Regions from separate parts of the Homo sapiens genome. Here region 2 is linked to region 1. Evidence: fine-mapped expression QTL. A gene starts in region 1. The other region holds a variant in brackets. All regions are shown on one strand. Distances are from middle to middle. Region 1 holds the start of RPS26 (ribosomal protein S26). Region 2 overlaps ESYT1 (extended synaptotagmin 1).

The links. PIP is the estimated chance that this variant, and not a neighbour inherited with it, causes the effect.
Region 2: its variant is the best candidate, but not a certain one, in a credible set for the expression of RPS26 in breast (GTEx, PIP 0.63).

What each region holds. Positions count from the first base shown.
Region 1 is chr12:56,040,700-56,043,461 of GRCh38, reverse strand. RPS26 (ribosomal protein S26) reads right to left here and starts at 1,544. Exons shown (of 4, transcript NM_001029.5): 1 at 1,293-1,544; 2 at 860-1,037; 3 at 1-99. The coding sequence starts at 1,295. RefSeq lists enhancers at 856-1,115, 1,256-1,585, 1,034-1,823 and a silencer at 1,736-1,795.
Region 2 is chr12:56,138,170-56,141,193 of GRCh38, reverse strand. ESYT1 (extended synaptotagmin 1) reads right to left here. Exons shown (of 31, transcript NM_015292.3): 21 at 2,922-3,011; 22 at 2,695-2,790; 23 at 2,355-2,426; 24 at 2,181-2,267. Among named protein-coding and RNA genes, the nearest start is that of ESYT1, 11 kb to the right of the region's middle. The variant A/CA (reference allele first, on the strand shown) is at 1,616.

The DNA.
Region 1 (2,762 bases):
CCTTGCGGGCTTCACGAGATCGATTCCTGACTACTTTGCTGTGAATTGCACAACTCACACAGTAATGTAGCTTCACATACAGCTTGGGAAGCACATAGGCTAAGGAATAGAAAATAGAGTTATACTGGTATTATATACCTACCTTGCTTTTTTGTTACATGAATGAAGAGCACCTTACATGTTTACGTCAATTAAAACTAAACCTATTTAAATGCCTGTCGGGCACATAAAAGCACCCCCAAAGCACCTGTTCAGCCCAATACCTGAGCACATATGTATAACCCTCAGTTTTACAAGTGAATTAACATCCCACGTGAGTTCATCTTGACACCGCAAGGACCAGACTGACATTCTAAATGCAATAAACCAATAATCCAGTTCCTTCTACACCTACACCCGCCCTAATGCCTACCCTGAACCTTGCTCTTTCTATAAAAGGAAAAAAACAAAGCGACGTTCTTATTGCTCCAAACATCATCCTTGCACACCAAACTAGACGGCCTCCATTCTCGAAACGTTGAAGACATTCTTCCTCACCTGTATATTTTCACAAATATTCAAATAATCAATAGCACAAGAATTGTCAAATTTACCAAGTTTCTAGTTTTTGCAATCTCATAACCGAAACAGGCAAACCTTTACCTCAGAGTAAAGGCTGTGCACTCTATCACAAAGTCACCCTCTGCCCAGAAAAGAATCAAAACGGCAAACAAGAGAATTCTCTTCTACCAGTAACAACCTTAAATACGTGGAAATTGCCTGAGAGGCTCCAAAGAACAGAGCCTCCAAAAGGGCGAAGTTGGGCGAAGGCTTTAAGATACTGGGATCCTCACACAGTTCGCGCCGGTGACCCACTTACCATCGAAGACGCTCGCTTCAGAAATGTCCCTGACTGCTGCGGCCTCCACTATGTTTCGAATGACGAATTTCTTAATGGCCTTGTCCTTGGGCACGCATCGGGCACAGTTAGTGCAGCGAATAGGCTGCACGTGGCCGCGGCCCTTTTTGGCACGACCATTGTTCCTTCTTTTCTTTGTCTGCGACAGGATGGGAAAACTGTTAGGAAAACGGCGCAACTCACCCAGCCTCAGTCCCTTTCCGGCCACAAGCCGCACCGGCAGCCTCCAGGAAGGCGCCGCTCGGATCTCCTGTTTCTCCGCAAATCCCGCCGACCCCCAGAGCAAATGAAATGTACACTCGGTCCACCCCTCAGCCGTGCTCCAGGCTCTCACTTCCCCACAATCCCAGAGTCTGCACCCGAACCCCCACCCTCACCACGCAAGAAGACTCACCATCTTGGAGGCACGGACCGGAGAGAGGAGACGGTGCCTGGCAGGGCCCTCCTATATAGCATGAGATCCCTACGCGGACACCGGGAGAATCCTTAGGAGACGGGCTTCAAGAACGGCAACTCACTTTACTCAAATATTCCTTTACATTCAGCATTTCTGCTGAAATCTAGGGTGGAAATGCGTTCCTAGTGTTTATTTATCCATGGAACAAAGTGCACATGGGACTATTTAGCCGGATGGCGGAAGAAAATCGAGGTTATGTGTCTCCCAGCAAGCCTTGCGCCGCGCCGACTCGGAAGCAATTCTGGACGATGCAGTTTTCCGGTATACGCGACGCTAGGCGTGAAAGTTGCCAGACGCTGGACCACAAGGCGCACTCGTTATTAGAGGCCAGAGAGGGACAGATGCTTGGTGGGAATTGTAGTGCGAAGCCAAGAGGCTCCCCCCTCCCCCCCTTCCCCCCTGCCCCAAGTGCTTAGACCGAAGGCGGCGCTGCGCCACCGGGGGACGCCCTGGGCTCATTTCTCTGACAGTCCTTCTACTAGGTAGGTGTAGGATTACGAAGAGGAAGGCCTGAGAGGAAACAAGCATTTTGTGAATCCCTCCTTCCAATATGGAGAAAATCCCACAATGAAGTGCATTGAGGCTGGGGCTATTTCTCATTCATCTTTTTATCTCTGGCACAGTGCCTGGCCCTGTGGTAAGCGTCTTTATAAATATTAACTCATTTAACTTTGAGCAAGCCTATAGGTAGCTACTATTATTATCCTCACTTTAAAGATTGAAGAATTTAGCCCGGCCTGGTGGTGGGCGCCTGTAATCCCAGGTACTCAGGAGGCTAAGACAGGAGAATCTTGAACCTGGGAGGCGGAGTTTCCAGTGAGCCGAGATCGCGCCACTGCACTCTAGCCTGGGTAAAAAGATCGAAACTCTGTCTCAAAAATAAATAAATCAATTAAAAAAAAAGATTGAAGAACTGACGTGCAGTAGGTATTCTGGCTCCGCTGTACTATGCTGTATGTCACCTAACAAATGGATGGAGGAATAGCCTGGACTAATGACTTAAACGTTTTTCACCCAGATTCATAGCACGAATACATTTTACATTGGTACCCAGTACACACACAAACACGATTACATGCACATGCAAAACTGAAACACAAGCTTTATGAAACGATACTTACCCTTGTCATAGGTGTGCTGGTATGTTCTATTCTTTATTTTTACTTAATCTTTCTGTTCTCTATTTTAATAAATGCTGATCAAAAACCACGAAAATTATTTCACCACTCATTAGTGAATCTGACCCCTAATTGAAAGATTATGTGTAAGCTCCATTTACCTCTGAAGAGCCATCGGAAAGACTTAAGCCTTAGGCTGGGTGCAGTGGCTCACGCCTGTAATCCCAACACTTTGGGAGGCCAAGGCAGGCGGATCACCTGAGGTCAGGAGTTCAAGACCAGCCTAGTC
Region 2 (3,024 bases), 98 kb before region 1:
TATTAATTTCAGCCGGGCACAGTGGTTCACACCTGTAAGATGGCTCATGGCCATCTTTTGTCTCCTCACTCTCCACGCTGCCTAAGAGATCTCACCCATGACTACACTTATGAGTGGTTGCTTGCTCATGATGTTCCAATAAGAGGGCAAGGGAGGAACACCTCATGGACAATAGATTTGTTTTCTGCATGTCTTCTCTTGGATGTCCTGCAGAGATCTCAAATTCCAAAATTCCCTCTCTGTGCACTCCCTAAGTCAGCAACGGCACCCTTATCCATCTAGCCACCCTGTGCCAAAAACCCCAGAGTTAGTGTCTAGGCTGTTCCTTGCTCCTCCACCTGCTCCATATCACAGCAATCTTCAAATCCCATCAGGCTTTAGTCGTTTCCTGCTTTGACTGCTCTAACAGTCTCCTCACTGATCTCCCTGCCCCCAGTGTTGTCCCTCTCCAGTCCATTCTTTACCCTCTTATCCCTATGATCTTCCCAAAATGCAAATCTGGATATGTGACCTCTCATTAAAGGCTTCCCTGACTGGGTGTGGTGGCTGACGCCTGTAATTCCAGCACTTTGGGAGGCCGAGGCAGTGGATCACTTGAGGTCAGGACTTAGAGACCAGCCTGACCAACATGGTGAAACCCCGTCTCTCTTAAAAATACAAAAATTAGCTGGGCGTGGTGGCGGGCACCTATAATCCCATCTACTCGGGAGGCTGAGGCAGGAGAATCGATTGAACCCAGGAGGGAGGTTGCAGTGAGCTGAGATCGTATCACTGTACTCCAGCCTGGGCAACAGAGCAAGACTCTGTTTCAAAAAAATAATAAATAAAATAAACAAAGGCTTCCCTAAGCCTTAGGATAAAATCCATATTTCTAGCATACTATTCAACAGCTCCTATGATCTTGCTCTGCCTGCCTCTCTGATCTATAATAAATATGCCTTCTCTCTCCTCCATTTTTTTTCTCAGCCTAAAGAGTTTTCCTGCTCTTCTTTTCGTGGTCCGAAAGAACCAGTAAATCTACCCTTAGGCTGGGGCGCGGTTCTCACGCTTGTAATCCCAGCACTTTGGGATGCCGAGGCGGGCAGAATGCTTGAGTCCAGGAGTTCGAGACCAGCCTGGATGACATGGTAAAACCTCATCTCCACAAAAAAATACAAAAATTAGCTAGGTGTGGTAGTGTGCACCTGTTATCCCAGCTGAGGTAGGAGGATTGCTAGAGCCCAAGAGTTGAGGCTGTAGTGAGCCCTGATTGCACCACGGCACTCCAGCCTGGGCGACAGAGTAAGACCCTGTCTAAAAAAAAAAAGGCCGGGTGCAGTGGCTCACACCTATAATCCCAGCACTTTGGGAGGCTGAGGTGGATGGATAACCTGAGGTCAGGAGTTCAAGACCAGCCTGGCCAACATGGCAAAACCCCGTCTCTACTAAAAATTGGTGGGGTATGGTGGCACGCGCATGTAATCCCAGGTACGCGGGAGGCTGAGGCAGGAGAATCGCTTGAACCTGGAAGGCTGAGGTTGCAGTGAGCTGAGATTGCGCCACTGCACTCTAGCCTGGGCAATAAGAGTGAGACTCTAGTCTCAAAAAAAAAAAAAAAAAATCTACCCTCAAGCTC[A/CA]GGGGTCATCTAAGGATGCCTTTCTATCTCCAGCCTTTCCCCAGCCTGAACCCTTCCTTTCTTCCCCACAGTGCCTTTTACCTCAGTTATCATTCTGAAAGTTTCATCTGGTTATTTTTCTCCCAAAACAGAGTGTGAGCTCCATAAAGATAAGAAGTCAATCTTTTGGCCGGGTGCGGTGGCTCACACCTGTATTTCCAGCACTTTGGGAGGCCGAGGTGGGCGGATCACCTGAGGTCAGGAGTTCGAGACCAGCCTGGCTAACATGGTGAAACTCCATCTCTACTAAAAAAAATGCAAAAATTAGCCAGGTGTGGTGGCGGGCACCTGTAGTCCCAGCTACTTGGGAGGCTGAGGCAGGAGAATGGTGTGAACCCAGGAGGCGGAGCTTGCAGTGAGCCAAGATAGCACCACTGCACTCCAGCCTGGGCGACAGAGCAAGACTCTGTCTCAAAAAAAAAAAAAAAAGTCAACCTTTTATCTCATCTCTGAATGCTCTGTGCCTGGTTTCCTGCCTGGCCATGGCAGAAATCTGCTAAATATTTGAAGAATGAATTTACAGTACCTGCAACTCTAGGCTCTCAGTGTGTGGTTTCCTGATGAGAAAGGAGGCACTCTCATCCCAGACAGGGGCTGAAGTTTGCGAAATAGTCTGGTGGAGATGAGGGCTTATGATCAGTAGCTGATACTCTTATTTCTCTTATCCCTCCCATTTTTACCCTGCAGCATTTCTTCATACCTTGGTTTTATGAGAACTATCTCCCACAGTGAGAGTAGCATAAGGGCTGAGGTGCTTGGTGCCTTTTCGCAGCTAGAAAGACAATACTGTGTTAGTCTTAAATTTGGACCTAGTTAGGCAGATCCCCCTCACAAATTATATCCACAGCCAGCAGCCATGTCTCCATTATTACTTGGCAGCCACTACCCGTGGCCTTGAACAGACAACTTTTCCCACCCCTGCACTACCCTCAGAAAGAGAGGGGCCATTTTTCTTATTCTAAATACTCCAGGACCATCCAAACCGGAGGAAGGTGGAAGAAGGGCCAGGAAGTTATGGGGCATGGGGAGCGGGATCTCACCGGGAGGTCCTCTGCCCGCTCCATATAGATGGATAGCAGGGCCGCAGCCAGCTCCGCACTCTTCTGAGTCTGGATCAAACTATTCACCTGCAGCACCTGTGGAGGGGCACACGGGGCTGGGGAGTGGTAACTGACACCTTGGGTTCTGGCATGTGCCTTGAACGCTAAGAGAAGAGCTCATCCTGCCCCACCTTGGGTCCCTTCCTTCCTCAAGTCTCCTGCCCTACCTCCTCTAACTCAGCAGCAGTGGGACGGGGGGTGAGACGCTCCAGGCGCAAGTGCAGGCGGCCAGATGGGACATCCTCCAGGGTCAGCCACTGTGGAAGTAGG